Linked DNA regions of Homo sapiens. The gene in region 2 interacts genetically with the main gene of each other region. Each region holds a gene or a part of one and is shown on either strand. Other genes may lie near its edges. The genes, in order: TFF1 and PRKCZ.

Region 1 (8,658 bases), on a different chromosome or scaffold from region 2:
TGAGGGGGAGGGAGAAAGAGATGCTTTAGTGAGGATAAACATTTTCTTTCACATTTAAACAATTACAGAGTTTTTACTTTAAAGTATCCATAGGCACATTCTTTAGAAAACATGAACTGTCAGCCGGGCACGGTGGCTCACGCCTGTAATCCCAGCTCTCTGGGAGGCTGAGGCGGGCAGATCACCTGAGGTCAAGAGTTCAAGACCGGTCTGGCCAACATGGTGAAACCCCGTCTATACTAAAAATACAAAAAAAATTTAGCTGGGCGTAGTGGCACACACCTGTAATCTCAGCTACTAGGAAGCTGAGGTTGAACTCAGGAGGCAGAGATTGCAGTGAGCCAAGATCGCACCATTGCACTCCAGCTCAGGGGCAACGGAGCGAGACTCCATTTCAAAAAAAAAAAAAAAAAAAGAATACATGAAATGTCTTCAGATTTCGTCATGCCTTCCCCCTCTATCCTAGGCAAGCTAGAAAGCGTTACCAACAGTGGCTCTTCCCAGGCTTTTGGTTAGAGATGTGAAGAGAAGCCGGGGGGAAATCAGGTTTCTTCCCAAGTCCCTTAGCCCTGCCTTTCTATTCCTGGACCTGAATGCAGCCTGACTCAGGCTACCCCATTGCACCACCACTGGCGGCCGTGACTCTGTGTAAAGGCATAGCTGGTGATGCTGATCAGAGCCTCTGTAGTCTTAAATGACTTTTCTAACTAATTCTAAATCTTCAGAACCCATCGTATAAAAAGGCCATACCTTCTGGAGGGACGTCGATGGTATTAGGATAGAAGCACCAGGGGACCCCACGAACGGTGTCGTCGAAACAGCAGCCCTTATTTGCACACTGGGAGGGCGTGACACCAGGAAAACCACAATTCTGTCTTTCACGGGGGGCCACTGTACACGTCTCTGAAAGTGCACAGGTAAGAAGCAAAGTAAGTTGTGGGCTGAATTCCTTGATGTTATCATGCACACACCCATCCAGCTTCCTTCTCCAATGACATCAGCAACTGTCCAGTGAGGCGGATATAAAACCCTCAGGACATGAGAGGGAGACGTGGTCCTCACATCCTGATGTGCAAACATTACGCTCAGGGAAAATGCAAGGTGCCCCAGGTTTGTGGACTTTGCATCTTTCTAGGTAACTTATTTATTCACTTTTTAATTTCAACAAATGATTATTAAATTTTACTCAATACATAAATATTTACTGAGCACCATTTGTGTGCATGAGAAGTGGGAGCTAGCATGGCAAAAGCCAGGCACTGTGCCAGGTGAGAGAGACCCAGAAATTAAAACCAGAGAAGTCATTAATAAGAGTCTAAATATCTGGGCCCAGGCTCATGCCTGTAATCCCAGCACTTTGGGAGGCTGAAGGAGGTGAATCACTTGAGGTCAGGAGTTCAAGACCAGCCTGACCAAAATGGTGAAGCCCCATCTCTACTAAAAATACAAAAAATTAGGCGGGCATTGTGGCACACGTCTGTAATCCCAGCTACTTGGGAGGCTGAGGCAGGAGAATCACTTGAACCCAGGAGGCAGAGGTTGTAGTGAGCCAAGATCGCACCATTGCACTCCAGCCTGAGTGACAGAGCAAGACTCCATCTCAAAAAAAAAAAAAAAAGAGTCTAAGGATCTGATGGAGGAGAAAGGCAAGAACATGTGCGAGACAACGCAAGGCCATCGTCCCAGGGTGCCCAGGGTAACCACGGGGGTAGGGCACTCCCCGGAGAGGCCAATGACAAGCAGGTTGAACAAAGCAGGGGGGCTCCCTGCAGGAGGAGGTTCACCAGGTGAAGATGGAGCCGCATGGGCAAAGGCCATTCCAGAGACCCAGGTGTGTTCAGGAGGTGGAAACCCATTGCAGGTAAGGTGAGAGGACCGGGTGGGGTGGTCTAGGAGGAGCCGACAGAGGGTACAAGCTGTGAAACAGCTTGAAGCAGGGCAGTGAGGAAAGGGATCTAGAGGAGGAAGACACGTGGACAGATGGGGCTGGCTGGGGGCTGCCGCAGGATCTTATGCAAGAGGTTCTAACACCAGAGCTTCAGGCTCTGAGCTCCGCGGAATCAAAGGTCTCAGAAAGCAACCTATTAGGATCTGGTGGTTGACAGCCTGCAGCAGGGGGTGAAAGAGGAGCCCAGAGCACCCTCCGGTCCCTGTCCCTGCCTTGGGGCATAGGAGGGGAGGAACTCAGTCTGGCCACACTGGCTCAGGTGAGGGCGCCCCAGGGGAGGCCGAGAGGGGCTGTTCTCTTGTCTGCTTTGCTATCAGGGACTGCCTCGAGATGTCTTTGGAGAAAGTGTTCCTGGCTTGCTGGGAAGGATCCGTGTTCAGCTCCCGCTGCCCAGCAGCTTCCATGGGAACCTTGCCCTCCTGGGGTCTGGATCCATCGCGACGTGAAGGTGATCATCGCCCACCCCCGGGACACTGTGGGGGTCAAGAGAGGCCCCGTGGTGAGGGAGGATCATCATCCTGGGGGTCGGGGGGGTTTCCTCCTCAGGGAGGAAGATTTCCAGCCCCGGTGCTCTGCCTCCGGCAGACTCTGTCTTGCCCACCCGCTTTGTCTTTGTCGCATGATGGAAATAAATGGAAATGGTTTCCACACACGAATGCACTAAACTGTAATCACAATTTTCTAGATTTCAGTTGTAACAGGATCATGGACCTGAGTGACCCGCAAAGACGCTCTGAGCCTTGAGCCAGAGGGTGTGTGGGGTGGGGAGGGGAGTTTGCCACGGCCTCTGTGATCCCACAGCACAGGGGGCAGAGCTGGGGGCTGGGGTGGGGGCAAGGGCGCAGGCAGATGGGCCTGGGGGTGGCCAGCACGGGGACCCACCCAGTTCGTTCTGTACACCGAGGCCACTTCCTCTCTCGGGTTCCAAAGCTCCCCCGCTCCCTGCCATGGGCTTGGGGGTCTTCCCACTGCAGCCCAATGCTGGCTGCTCTTCTACGCTGCCCAAGCCCACCCCTCAGGCCCGGTACCCCACAGCAGAGATCAAGAGGTGGCTGGAGGGCAGTGGGGGCACGGACAGCACCACTGGGCGCTCCCTCTTCAGGCCTCTCTGGAAACCCTTGCTTTGGAAACGTAGAAAGCCCTTTCTCCTGCCCCCACCTTGAAACTGTACCTAATAACGGCAAATAAGTTATTCAGCTCCCCACAGCTGGCAAAGTGCAAGTCGCAGATGCTGCCACACAGCATTTCCTGACAGCCCTAGGGCAGACCGTTGATCCATTCTGCAGGTAAAGGAGTTGAGATGCAAACACTTCCCAAGGAAGCAAGAATGGCCTCCTCCTCCACTCCCTAGAAGGACCCAGGGCAACCGATCCACTTGACAACACCAGGGAATATGGGTTGCCAGCCACGCACTCATGAGAGAGGTGGCTTTGACTCCCAGAGCATGGATCCCAGGGGAGCCCAGGAACCTGTAGGAGAGGGTCTCCCAGTTGGCCACCACTGGGACGGGCATTCGGGCCTGTGGGAGAGGGTCTCCCAGGTGGCCATCACTGGGACCGGCATTTGGGCCTATCTGGATGGGCCTTGGGAGGGTCTGCCCCTGGGGGAGATGTTGGCATGAACAGTCAAAAGCACTATTCTGAGACCCCACGCCAACACTTCCTCTTTGAAACATGACACTTGGGAGGATTGTATAGTCTTCCTAACACAGGAAAACAGCCCCGACTGAAGGCAGCCCCCTCCTCGTCGCACTTCTCGAAGGTCTCCGGGGGCCCTGCCACCCTGAGTTACTCTCCACCTGCTTTTGCCGATCCTGTAAATTGGATATACTTTTAAGGGCCTAGAACAGCACCTGGCACAAAACAGGTGCTCAAAAATATGTATGTAAAACAGTGGCTCCTGGCGGAGGCTGCCAGAGCTGGCTGTGGCCCCACAGAGCAGGAAGAAGCACGCCTTACCTGTCTGGGCCTCGGCCAGGGTGCCGAGGGCCAGCATGGACACCAGGACCAGGGCGCAGATCACCTTGTTCTCCATGGTGGCCATTGCCTCCTCTCTGCTCCAAAGGCGACCCCGAGTCAGGGATGAGAGGCCGCCCGAGCCCCGGATTTTATAGGGCAGGCTCTGTTTGCTTAAAGAGCGTTAGATAACATTTGCCTAAGGAGGCCCGGGGATCCTCTGAGACAATAATCTCCACTGATTTTTATCAAAGGTGTTTCCTAGACATGGTCAAGCTACATGGAAGGATTTGCTGATAGACAGAGACGACATGTGGTGAGGTCATCTTGGCTGAGGGATCTGAGATTCAGAAAGTCCCTCTTTCCCATGGGAGTCTCCTCCAACCTGACCTTAATCCAGGTCCTACTCATATCTGAGAGGCCCTCCCGCCAGGGTAAATACTGTACTCACTGCAGAAGTGATTCATAGTGAGAGATGGCCGGAAAAAGGCTTGGCCGTGACAACAGTGGCTCACGGGGTGGCCACCGTGACCTTGCAGGGGGAAGGGAAGGAGCTCATGAAGCCCATTCCGTCTAGGCCTAAGCTAATTCTTTTACAGTGGAATTGTTTTAATAATGAAATTGTAGGCCTGGCGCAGTGGCTCACGCCTGTAATCCCAACACTTTGGGAGGCCAAAGCAGGCGGATCACTTAAAGTCAGGAGTTTGAGACTAGCCTGGCCAACATGGCGAAACCCCGTCTCTACAAAAAAAAAAAATACAAAAATTAGCCAGGCATGGTGGCGGGTGCCTGTAATCCTAGCTACTCTGGAGGTTAAGTCAGGAGAATCACTTGAACCTGGGAGGCGGAGGTTGCAGTGAGTCGAGATCACCCTACTGCACTCCAGCCTGAGCGACAGATTAAGTCTCCTTCTGGGAGGGGCTGGGGGCAGGAGGGAGAAAAAAATAGTATATACGAGCTGCCATCAAAAACTGACAAAGTGAACGTGGTTCACTCCCCTGTGTCTATGGGGCTCCCTCCCTCCCCCTCCCACACCTTCCCAGTTGGTCCCCTGGACTCCTGTATTTTAGAGGACAGCCTCCTGCTCTCCTGTACCATGCCTCACTCCCCTCCCCTGCTCGGAGCTTTCTCTTTCATAGCTCTTATTACCTCCTGGTGGATAAAACAAGTGACTGACACATTATGTTGGTTATTTATTCATTGCACTCCTCCCTGCAGCAGACGGGAGGGCGCATGGGAGCAGAAGTCCTCATCTCCTAGTGCCTTGAGGTGGCCCCAGACCCTAGAACAGTGGCTTTGATTGGCATTCGAGAAACAGCTGTTGAAGAGCTGCATGAAGAAATGGACAACAGGAGAAATCTTTTCTTCTTCAGTGAGAAATTAGGCCCTGAGGAAAATGCATGCTAGCCTAACAAAGGTACTATCTTTTCTTGGGTGACCTAGTCAGTACATTTCTGCAGCCCCTCTGGGAGGGGAGCCTGGGCCAGAATGGGGGCGGCCATGTTCCTCTTCGCTCCATCCCAGGACCCAGCCCCTCCTCCAGGGCTGCCACTCCTGCACCGGGGTCTCCACTCCTGGGCCAGGGTCTCCAGGAGGGGCCTGACCGCAGGACCCAGGGAGGGGCCGAGGCCTGGTGTCCTCTGTGGTCAGCTTAAGTTTATTGAAAACAGGACGGGGGCACCAGGCCCAGGGTGGTGCTCATAGTGACGGTGGTTTTCGCTGCTCTAATTTCTCGGATCAAAATGGGGGCTCTTGGAAATGGGATGTAAATTGCACAATCATTTGGAGAAAAGGTGGGCAGTGTTCGGTGAGGTTTAAGCCATACAGATTTTACAGCTCAGCAAATTCTTCTGTTTCCAGGCCTGGTCTCTTAATCCCAGAAACATGTTCATACTTGGGCAGAAGAAAACACAGGCAAAGATATTCTTTTTAGCATTGTTTGTAACAGCTGGAAACAGGGAAAGAAGGAAGGAAGGAAAGGAGGGAAAGAAAAGCAAAATAAATATTCATTAACCAGGGAAAGGGAAAATGAACTTAAAATACAATGCAGTCGTCCCTTAGTACCCCTGGGGGACTGGTTTCAGGACCCCCCACCCAGGGATGCCAAAATCCACAAATGCTCAAGTCCCTGGTATAAAATGACATAGTGCGCAGAAACCACGTGCATCCTCTCCTACACTTTAACCATCTCTAGGTTAGTTATAATACCTGATGCAATACCTACACCTCATTTCATTCTGCAGATTCTACATAGTACTTGACTTGCGGCACACCCAAGTTTTGATCTTTAAGATGTTGTAAATAAGATTTTAAAATACTTTTTTTTTTTGAGACAGAGTCTTGCTCTGTCGCCCAGGCTGGAGTGCGGTGGCATGATCTCAGCTTACTGCAACCTCCACCTCCCAGGTTTAAGTGATTCTCCTGCCTCAGCCTCCTGAGTAGCTGGGATTACAGGCATGTGCCACCACGCCCAGCTAATTTTTGTGTTTTTAGTAGAGACAGGGCTTCACCATGTTGGCCAGGCTGGTCTCGAACTCCTGACCTCAGGTGATGCACCCGCCTCAGCCTCCCAAAGTGCTGGGATTACAAGTGTGAGCCACTGTGCCCAGCTGGATTTTAAAACAGTTTTGATCTGACATTACTGGAATCCATGGATGTAGAACCCATGAATATAGAGAACTAATTGCATACATGTATTATACTTTACATATATTATATATGTATGTATGTGAGTATCTTTCAGAAGATGAAAATGAATAAATAATGAGAAATATTGAAAACAAAGCGAAGTGAAAAAATCCGTTAAAATGGTTTGTAAAGTAGGATATCATTTATAATGTAGATTTCCAAACTATGTGAAACAATGTGATATACTGTTGGAACTGCATCCAGATGAACAAAATGATGACAGTGTAGACAGGAACGAGACACTGACTTCAGCATGATGGGTCTGTCTAGGAAGGAGGAAGCAGGAAAAGGTGGCGGGGTAGGGCGCAAAGGGGCCTTCGATGTCTCCGTAATGTTTTCTTTTGTTGAAGAAAATCTGAGGGAAATAAGGTAAAAAGGTTAGCATCCATTAATGAGGGGCAGCGTAGATTCACGGATGTTGTTCTAGCATTCTGTACATGTTTGCAATTGCTTTCTTGGAAAGCCCAGCTCCTATCTCCTTGGGAGAGCTGTGAGATAACTACCAAGTGCCGGAGTTTGGCCTCCCACATTAGGGTTGGAGCGGCTGGAGCTGCCCCCGGGACTCTCCGTTTCTCGGGACAAGAGCTTTATCCCTGTGAGAGTGGGCGGAACCCAAGACCACACCATACATAACCTTATCCATAAAAACTTGTTGAAGACAATTCCAGTGTGGCGAGGGAGAGAATGCAGAGGCAAGCGCCAGTCCATCATCAGTGGGGGACCCTGTGCCAGCATTTTCACAGCTCTGGGTCTTAGTTTTCTTATCTGAAAGACGCAGTGGCTGGGCCACAGGACATCTGAAGACTCCGCACCTCAGACCCTCTCCGGCAGGCATCTATGGCCGTGGGGGCGTCTGTGGCTGTGCAGGCATTGCTTGTTTCCTGCGCCCAGCCGACCTCCCTGCGGTCTGGCGAGAGCCCCTCATTTTCAGTGGGGGGCCCCGCAGCCGCCCAGATTCCCCACAAGGGGGACGCGCAGTTGGGGAGTCAGTCTCCTCCTGACGCTCCCCACCTGCCCGCTGCCCCTGACCTGTGCCTTGGCAGGAGGGGGTTCTGTAGGTGGCCCTGGAGGGAGGGAGGAGTTTGGGAGGAAGTGGATCCGGGCTCTCCTCCAGGATCCCTCCTGGGATCACCTGGGACAGGCCACGTCCCCCTCTCAGCCACAGCCCAGGTGGGCGTCCTCTCCACACACCATCTTCCCCAGGCCCCAGAGCAGACCCCTCACCCCCCTGCCCCAGCCTGGGGGGTTTACCAGCCGCAAGGAGACTTTTACAGTCTTCACTCTCCTCGCATTGCCCAGATCCGCTGTGGTGAAGCCCGTTTCCTGCCAGGCCTCTGGTCAAAAAAGCAACTGCCACCCCAGGGACCCTTTACAAGGACACCCAGCTGAGGCCCTGGGGTTGGGGTCCTCAGGTATTGGAGGAGGCAGGTACTTTCCTGGCCAGGGAACTTGAGGCACAGACCCACAGCATGGAGCGGGACCACATTCCTCAAATTAACCCAGAAGGAGAGGGGAATGATTGGAGTGTGAGGCCAGGCTCCTCCAGGGAGAGTGGCTGAGGCGCTATGCTTCCATGGTGACAGTAGGGCGGTAACCTCGTCAGGTTAGCCAGCTTCTTCCAGAGCCACACACACCCAGAAAGGGAAGAGGAGATCCAGGACTGAGCATGGACGCAGGACGATCAGAAAGGCGTCCTTGGTGGTACACCCTCCAGACACCATCCACTCCCTCCGGACACCGCTCACACCCTCCAGCCACCGCCAACTCCTTCTGGCCACCAATCACACCCTCCGGTCACTGCTCAGTCCCTCCAGTCAGGGATCACTCCCTCCAACGACCACTCACACCCTCCAGCCACTGCTCACACACTACAGCCACCACTCCAACCCTCCGTTCAGGTCTTACATCCTGTGGCCACTGCTCATTCCCTCCAGTCACCACCCACACCCTCCAGCCACTGCCCACACCCTCCAGCCACCGCTCAAACCCTCCGTCCAGGTCCCATATCTGATCACTGCTCACTCCCTCCGGCCACAGCCCACACCCTTCAGCCACCACTCACACCCT
Region 2 (8,725 bases):
CCCAGGCTGCTCTACGCAGAGCGCAGCAGGAGCTGCAGCCCCCCAGCCCCTGCAAGCCACGGGGCCTTGCCTGAAGCAGCACCTCGTCACCCCTGCCCGATGGCACCTCCCCTGTGTCCCCTCATGCAGAGCAGGGTTCCAGGCCTCTCCTTGGGGCCACTGGTTCCCCCAACCTTGGGATAGACCCAAGAGGAGGCTCTCAAGCTTGGGCAAGCCTGGCGCCCGGAAGGGACAAGGTGCCGGGGCCACCTGTTGCCCGGCTCAGTGTCCTCTTTTGAGAAGGTATAGGTGTGGAAGGCCCTGCCTGTCCTCTCCGCTGGCCCCTCAGTGTGGCCTGGGCCTGACGCTCTGTTCCCACCTGCAGAGAGCGTACTGCGGTCAGTGCAGCGAGAGGATATGGGGCCTCGCGAGGCAAGGCTACAGGTGCATCAACTGCAAACTGCTGGTCCATAAGCGCTGCCACGGCCTCGTCCCGCTGACCTGCAGGAAGCATATGGTGAGTGGCAGGGCTGGGGAGGCCCGGGGGGCACGGGCGGGGTCGGGGCGTGGCAGCCAGCCCATTGTCCAAGCAGACCTTGGTGACCCTGGGTTCTTCAAGAGGGGCCGTGGTGCCGTCCTAGCTCTGGGCTGCAGCGTGAGACTCAGGCGGCAGTCTTGGATAGGACCCATCTTCCTGAGCCCCCACAAGCCCCCGGCACACTCTGCTCATTGGGGCATGAGGCTCAGGCAGCAGGCTCAGGTAGGACGTGGTACGCTCTGCTCAGTGGGTCGGAGGTAAGGTTCATTCATACCCCAGTCTTGAACCAGCTCTTAAGGACTGTGGAGGTGAAAGCCAGGTCTGACCTAGTAGCATTGGGCACGCTGAGGCTCCGAACATCTGGAGCCTCTCCCTGGCATCCCCCCTGGGAAGCCATGCCCAGCCTGTGATGAGGGCGGCACCTTCCCTCCGCCATCCCCGAGTGCTTGGACTTGAAGCATCCAGGCCTTTGGGGGCCTTATTGACTTTTGCTTATTGAAGGCTGCCTCTGGCATTTCCGTGTGGCCCCCTGCATCCCACTGAACCACGGGGGTGAGGCCTGGACTGAACATTCAACTCCCTGGGCCCTGCTGCAGCGTGCAGTGGGTGTGTCTGGGGAGGGTGGCTTGTCTGCATCTTGCTGTGGCATGGGAGGAAAGGCGCCTGTGGCAGTGACGTGCCCTCTCCTCTGTTACGGGATAAAGACAGAGTCTGGATCAGGGTGTCACCCCAGGATCACCAGCCACAGGGATGGGGGACCACGCAGGCTGGTGCATGCGTTGGCACAGTCCTTCCAGAGGTCCTTCAGCTGCATCTGCCAAAAAGCCTGTAATGCCCTTTGACCTCATAGGTCCACTTTAGCGTAAGCAAATGAGACCGGCCCCAGAAATGTGGTCAGCTAGAGGCGGAGGGAGGCCAGAGCCTGCCACCCAGCTGACCACCAGTACTGGTGGCTCCATTATGACATATCTGCAGGCGGAACCCAGAGGCCCTTAGAATGGCCCCCTGATGCTTGGTTACTGACAGGATGCAGCTTTGGGACAGGGGAGATGACCAAGCATTGTGCAAAATATCCCGTTGTATAAAGCACTTGGTGGAAAGGTCATGGCCTGCAGTACCGAGTGGCCACCTCCGTCTGCAGAATCATAGGTAATGTTTATGTTCTTTATCTAATTCAGTAAAATAGCATAACAATTAGATTTTTATATACTATATTACAGTATACCCATTGTAATGTGTAAATATGTAAATCATAAATAGTCTTGAAGTGGCCAGGTGCAGAGGCTCACACCTGTAATCCCAACACTTTGGGAGGCCAAGGTGGGAAGATCACTTGAGGCCAGGAGTTCAAGACCAGCCTGAGCAATATGGTGAGACCCCATCTCTACAAAAAAAATACAAAAATTAGCCAGGCATGGTGGTGCGCACCTGTAGTGCCCGCTGCTCTGGAAGCTGAGGCGGGAGGATTGCTCGAGCTCAGGAGGTTGAAGCTGCAGTGAGCCGTGATCGCGCCACTGCTCTCCAGCCTGGATGATGACAGACTGTGACCCTGTCTGTAAAAAAAAGTTCTTAATTTTAAAAAGTCACAAAGTGTTTACAGAAGCTACATTGTAACACCTGCTCTAGCACTTGGTCATGCTGCCATCTCTGTGTCTCTCCGGCAGGATTCTGTCATGCCTTCCCAAGAGCCTCCAGTAGACGACAAGAACGAGGACGCCGACCTTCCTTCCGAGGAGACAGATGGAAGTAGGCGCTGCTTTCTTCCGGCCGGGTAGAGCCTGGGCATCACCTCACCCTGCTCACCTCTGCCTTCTAGCCACGAGTCCTTTCTCAGTCCCATCTGCTCTGCAGGGGTCATTGTCTTCAAGCCTGGCCACCCTTCCCTGGGGCTGGGGATGAGGCTCTCCAGGGCCTCCTCTCAATCCCCGGCAGAGATGAGCAGGGTGAGCTGGCCCTCCCTGGAGGCTGCTGGGCAGGGATGCCTCCGTGAAGTGCTGTTGTGGTTGCCCAGGGGTGCAGAGCCTCTTCCTCTAACCAGCTCCGGGAGTTCTCGAAGGCACTTAGTGCAGCAGCCACCATGGCCGGGCACCTCCCACAATCTGGCTGCTGCACAGAGCTGAGCCCTATCTGGGGAAAGCCTGGCGAGGTGGCTGCTGCACACACAGCGTGGCAGTGGCATGGTCCTTGGATTTTTGTGAGGTTTTGTTTGTTGTGGGGAAGGACTTGTTTTATTGCTAAGAAGCATTCAGAGAGAGATCTCAAACACCAGTTGGACTTACAGCCCAGGTTTGAGCCTCCACACCTGCACCTCTGCACGGGGGTGTGAGAGCCTCACTTTCACTTGATGCATGTGAGTTCTGTCTCATTGGGAGACCACAGAACATAAAGCACTTATGAGACCACAGAACATAAAGCACTTAGTTCACACAGTGCCTCACGCAAAAGAGATGCCTCACAAACAACTGCCTGCCCACCTGCTCCTCCACCCACCTATCCTCTATACAGATATTCATCCGTACATCATCCATTCACCCACCTAGCCAACCAACCAGCCCTCATCCAGCCAACCAGCCATCCTCCACCCGCCCATTCTCCATCCATCCACCACCTATCCATCTATCCACGATCCATCCATCTCGTCATCCAGCCAGCCAGCCAGCCATCCTCCACCCACCCATCCTCCAGCTATCTTCCATTCGTTCATCTGTTGTCCACTGACCTCTCCATCTATCCATGTATCTATTGTCCACTGACCTCTCCATCTATCCATCTATTGTCCACTGACCTCTCCGTCTATCCGTCTATTGTCCACTGACCTCTCCATCCAACCGTCTATTGTCCACTGACCTCTCCATCTATCCATCCATCTTTTGTCCACTGACGTCTCCATCTATCCATCTGTCTGTTGTCCACTGACCTCTCCACCCATCTATCTGTTGTCCACTGACCTCTCCATCTTTCCATCTGTTGTCCACTGACCTCTCCATCTATCCATCTATTGTCCACTGACCTCTCTATCTATCCATCTATTGTTCACTGACCTCTCCTTCCATCTATCTGTTGTCCACTGACCTCTCCATCTATCCATCTATCTTGTCCACTGACGTCTCCATCTATCCACACATCTGTTGTCCACTGACGTCTCCATCTGTTCATCTATCTGTTGTCCACTGACCTCTCCACCCATCTGTCTGTTGTCCACTGACCTCTCCATCTTTCCGTCTATTGTCCACTGACCTTTCCATCTATCCAGCTATTGTCCACTGACCTCTCCATCTATCCATCCATCTATTGTCCACTGACGTCTCCATCTGTCCATCTATCTGTTGTCCACTGACCTGTCCACCCATCTGTCTGTTGTCCACTGACCTCTCCATCTATCCATCCACTGTCCACTGACCTCTCCATCTATCCATCCATTGTCCACTGACCTCTCCATCTATCCATCCATCTATTGTCCACTGACGTCTCCATCTGTCCATCTATCTGTTGTCCACTGACCTGTCCACCCATCTGTCTGTAGTCCACTGACCTCTCCATCTTTCCGTCTGTTGTCCACTGACCTCTCCGTCTATCCATCTATCTATTGTCCACTGACCTCTCCATCTATCCATCTATTGTCCACTGACCTCTCCATCTATCCATCCATCTATTGTCCACTGACCTCTCCATCTATCCATCCACTGTCCACTGACCTCTCCATCTATCCATCCATCTATTGTCTACTGACCTCTCCATCTATCCATCCATCTATTGTCCACTGACGTCTCCATCTATCCATCTGTCTGTTGTCCACTGACCTGTCCACCCATCTGTCTGTTGTCCACTGACCTCTCCATCTTTCCGTCTGTTGTCCACTGACCTCTCCGTCTATCCATCTATCTGTTGTCCACTGACCTCTCCATCTATCCATCTATTGTCCACTGACCTCTCCATCTATCCATCCATCTATTGTCCACTGACCTCTCCATCTGTCCATCCACTGTCCACTGACCTCTCCATCTATCCACCTATTGTCCACTGACCTCTCCGTCTATCCATCCATCTATTGTCCACTAACCTCTCCATCTATCCATCCATCTATTGTCCACTGACCTCTCCATCTATCCATCCATTGTGCACTGACCTCTCCATCTATCCGTCTTCTATCCAGGCCTCCATTCATCCCCCATCTAGTCATCCTCCATCCATCCACCAGACATCCACTCCTGCCCCTACCCACCCATTCACTAGACACCAAAATCCGGTGACGAATTATTTGCAGATGGACCCCTGGGGACGTATGTCACGAATGTACATCCCCAGGTCCCATGGTCAGAGTCGGCAGGTGTGAGTGGGGCCCAGGAAACTGCATTTTCAGAAGACTCTAAATTAGAATCAGACATGGCTGCTGTGTGGATTCACCCTTCACCGTCACCCTGCAGAGGAGCAAGGTCCACAGGGTCGCTGTGTTCCCAGTGCGTTCCTGACCACACCGTAACGCCCCTTCCTTCCTCCCTCTCTCACCAGTTGCTTACATTTCCTCATCCCGGAAGCATGACAGCATTAAAGACGACTCGGAGGTGAGTGTGTGGAGCAGCTCGCTGCCATTTCCGACGTCCTCTGGAAAGTCTGTGAGCCTGTCTCTGGGGTAGTCACGGAAATCTAGATGTGAAATAGACATGGTCCGGGGTGTTGCTAACTAATCTTCACGGGTGTGGATGTCTAGAAGGAAGTCCTTATTCTTGGGTCTTACTTCAGGCATGTCCTTGATGAATACCTGCAGGCAGCTGTCCCCGCAGGTGGTCTGGGGACCACACCCTGCGGGGGAAGCCGTGCCCCACATCCTCTCCATTCAGGTGGTACAGTGGCCCAGGGGCTGGCTTTTGAGCTGCAATTTTTATCAAGTTGTGTCTGCACCATGCCTTCCGAATTGTGTTGCCTCATTTGGCCATCCTGGCAAACCCTCTGAAGCCCTTTCATGTCCTTCCCCAACTTGAGCCAAGAGGCTCAACTGAGCCTCACGTCTGTGGCCAGCTCTGCACCATAAACCCTGAGAAGGGAACAGAAGAGCTTGCTGCGTTCTCAGCCTCTGCTCGTAAAACCCAGGGAAGGACTGCACTAGCGAAGCCCACTCCTTTCCAGAGCACCAACAAGTGTCACCCTCACAACTCGTGCTCCTTCCTGGCCATCCTGTGTCTGGAGGGAGGCCGGGGCACTTAGAAAGCAGAATCTGAGGCTGAGCACGGCGACTCACACCTCCAATCCCAGCATTTTGGGAGGCTGCGCACATCGCTTGAGTCCAGGAGCTCGAGAACAGCCTGGGCAGCATAGCGAGACCCTGTTCCTACAAAAATAAATACAAAATAATTAGCTGGGCATGGTGGCACGGGCCTGTGGTCCTAGCTGCTTGGGAGGCTGAGGTGGGAGGATCGCCTGAGCCTGGGAGGTGGAGGCTGCAGTGAGCTGAGATCGCACCACTGCACTCCAGCCTGGGCGACAGAGGAAGAGTCTGTCTCAAAAAAAGCAGAATCCGGCTGGGCGCGGTGGCTCACGCCTGTAATCCCAGCACTTTGGGAAGCTGAGGCGGGCAGATCACGAGGTCAGGAGATGGAGACCATCCTGGCTAACACGGTGAAACCCCGTCTCTACTAAAAATACAAAAAAAAAAAAAGCTGGGCGTGGTGGCGGGCGCCTGTAGTCCCAGCTACTGGGGAGGCTGAGGCAGGAGAATGGCGTGAACCCGGGAGGTGGAGCTTGTAGTGAGTCGAGATCGTGCCACTGCACTCCAGCCTGGGCGACAGAGCCAGACTCCGTCTCAAAAAAAAAAAAAAAAAAAAAGCAGAATCCATTTTGCCGCACAGAACAGCACCTCCCAAGGAACCGCCTCCTCCACCCCGACCTCCTTGCCAGGTGTAGCTTGCGGGAGGCAGAGGCTTCTGTTCTTCCTCGGAGCGCCTTTCTCCTGGGTATTTCTAATAATTATTTCTAATAATGTGTGCCTGCCGGTTTGGGAGCTCTTGGCAGGCATTAGCTGCATTCGCTTTACCTTCCTTCCCCTGAGGGAGGGCACTGATCAGGAAGGATGGGCCCAGGCCCTGGGCCACATGTCCCTGTGGCCACCTCTTCAGCCCCACTGATAGGGCTGAGGGCCTGGGGGTCCCTCCCACCTGCAGCTGTGACCAGAGCCATGGTCTGTGGAACGAACAGCTTCTAGCTTTCTAGCACCTTCCTCAGAAGCACACAGCCTTAAATTCTTACCTTTCATGCCCCAGTTTAGATGGGAGTTTGGGGGTGGGATATGTGGGACGCAGAACTGAGACTCGAATCATGAGGCCCTGGGCTCTGAGGAGCAGGTCTCTGTTGGGACCGCATGAGTGATGCGTGGTCCTCTGAGTCTCCCGGGAACCCCCCTCTCACTTTCTGGGGTCTTGTTCTCCCTCCCTAGGACCTTAAGCCAGTTATCGATGGGATGGATGGAATCAAAATCTCTCAGGGGCTTGGGCTGCAGGACTTTGACCTAATCAGAGTCATCGGGCGCGGGAGCTACGCCAAGGTTCTCCTGGTGCGGTTGAAGAAGAATGACCAAATTTACGCCATGAAAGTGGTGAAGAAAGAGCTGGTGCATGATGACGAGGTAGGTGCCGCTTCTCATGGGGCCCGGGGGCCCGGGAACGCGCTGCCCTGGGGCCTCCTCCGGGCTTTAGCGGAATTAATCCATGCACGAGAGACCTAGCCTCACGTTGACGGAGTTTGTGCAAAATCAATAGTCATGCATCGTGTAATGACCAGGATGTGTTCTGGAAAGTGCCTGGTTAGGTAATGGCACTGTTGTGTGAACATCACAGTGTGCACTCCACAAACCCAAACAGCACAGCCAACTCCACAGCCAAGATGCACAGTGCAGCTCCTGCTCCCAGGCTGCAAGCCCGTACGGCTGTTAGTGCACTGCACACTGCAGGCAGTGAGGGGACCACCACGAGAGCACTCACGTGTCTAAGCTTAGAAAAGGTGAAGATGGGTATCGTGGTCTCTGCAACCTTCTCATGTATGGCCAACCACTGATACGTTGCCTTCCAGCAGACTGCGGTTGAGTTTTAGGATGTCATCACCCTTGTTAGGAAATCTCTGGGGTTGAGCTGAACTGGACGGGTGATGGGGTGGGACAGGAAGCTGCCCAGAGGCACTGCCCTGCTCCGTCCTGCACAAGGCCCCAGCTTTGCAGTACATGCTGAGCTGCCGTGGCTCTGTGTAGCAGATCTTCCCACACCAGCTGTTTCTAGGGGAGAAGTTTGTTGATTATAGGATCAATGGTTTATTTGTTGAAATCTTTTTTTTTGGAAACGGTCTTACTCTGTCACCCAGACTGGAGTGGCTTGATCACAGCCCACTATAGCCTCAAAGTCCCCAGCTCAGGTGATCCTCCCACTTCAGCCTCTGGAGTGTTGGGACTACAGGCATGAGCCACCACCCCCAGCTGTATAATTTTTGTATTTTTTGTAGAGGCAGTGTCTCATTCTGTTACCCAGGCTGGAGGGCAGAGCATGATCACGGTTCACCTCCTGCAGCCTCCACCTCCTCCTGCAGCCTCCACCTCCTGCTAGGCTGAGGTGATCCTCTTGCCTCAGCCTCCAGAGGAACCAGGACTACAGGCATGCACCACCATGCCCAGCTATTTTTTGTGTTTTTTGTAGAGACGGGGTTCCACTATATTGCCCAGGCTGGTCTAGAATTCCTGCGCTCATGCACTCTGCCCGCCTCAGCCTGCTAGAGTGCTGGGATTACAGGCATGAGTCACTATGCCTGGCCTGTTTGTTGAAATCTTAATTCTGACTTCATAGACCTTTTTCTTTTAATTAAAGTAAAATACACATGACATAGAATTTGCCATTTTAAAGTGTACAGTTAGGGCCGGGCGCGGTGGCTCACACCTATAATCCCAGCACTTTGGGAGGCTGAGACAGGTGGATTACCTGAGGTCAGGAGTTCAAGACCAGCCTGAACAATATGGTGAAACCCCAACTCTACTAAAAATACAAAAATTAGCCAGGTGTGGTGGCGCACACCTCTAATCCCAGCTACTCAGAGGCTGAGACAGGAGAATCGCTTGAACCAGGGAGGCGGAGATTGCAGTGAGCCGAGATCACGCTACTGCACTCCAGTCTGGGCGACCAAATGAGACTCTGTCTTTAAAAAATAATAAAATATGCAAACAAAGTGTACAGTTAG

Evidence for each region.
Region 1: of PRKCZ (region 2) and TFF1, changing one enhances a phenotype caused by changing the other (phenotypic enhancement), as found in Homo sapiens cells (one study listed by BioGRID).

The regions. Positions count from the first base shown.
Region 1 is NC_000021.9:42,362,505-42,371,162, forward strand, and holds the start of TFF1 (trefoil factor 1 precursor), read right to left. Parts: upstream 4,032-8,658; 5' UTR 3,992-4,031; coding exon 3,907-3,991; intron 2,609-3,906; exon of another isoform or gene 904-2,608; coding exon 751-903; exon of another isoform or gene 726-750; intron 1-725. UniProt on the Homo sapiens protein: Stabilizer of the mucous gel overlying the gastrointestinal mucosa that provides a physical barrier against various noxious agents. May inhibit the growth of calcium oxalate crystals in urine.
Region 2 is NC_000001.11:2,143,846-2,152,570, forward strand, and holds part of PRKCZ (protein kinase C zeta type), read left to right. Parts: intron 1-364; coding exon 365-496; intron 497-1,541; exon of another isoform or gene 1,542-1,666; intron 1,667-2,181; coding exon 2,182-2,263; exon of another isoform or gene 2,264-2,460; intron 2,461-5,026; coding exon 5,027-5,079; intron 5,080-6,944; coding exon 6,945-7,133; intron 7,134-8,725. UniProt on the Homo sapiens protein: Calcium- and diacylglycerol-independent serine/threonine-protein kinase that functions in phosphatidylinositol 3-kinase (PI3K) pathway and mitogen-activated protein (MAP) kinase cascade, and is involved in NF-kappa-B activation, mitogenic signaling, cell proliferation, cell polarity, inflammatory response and maintenance of long-term potentiation (LTP).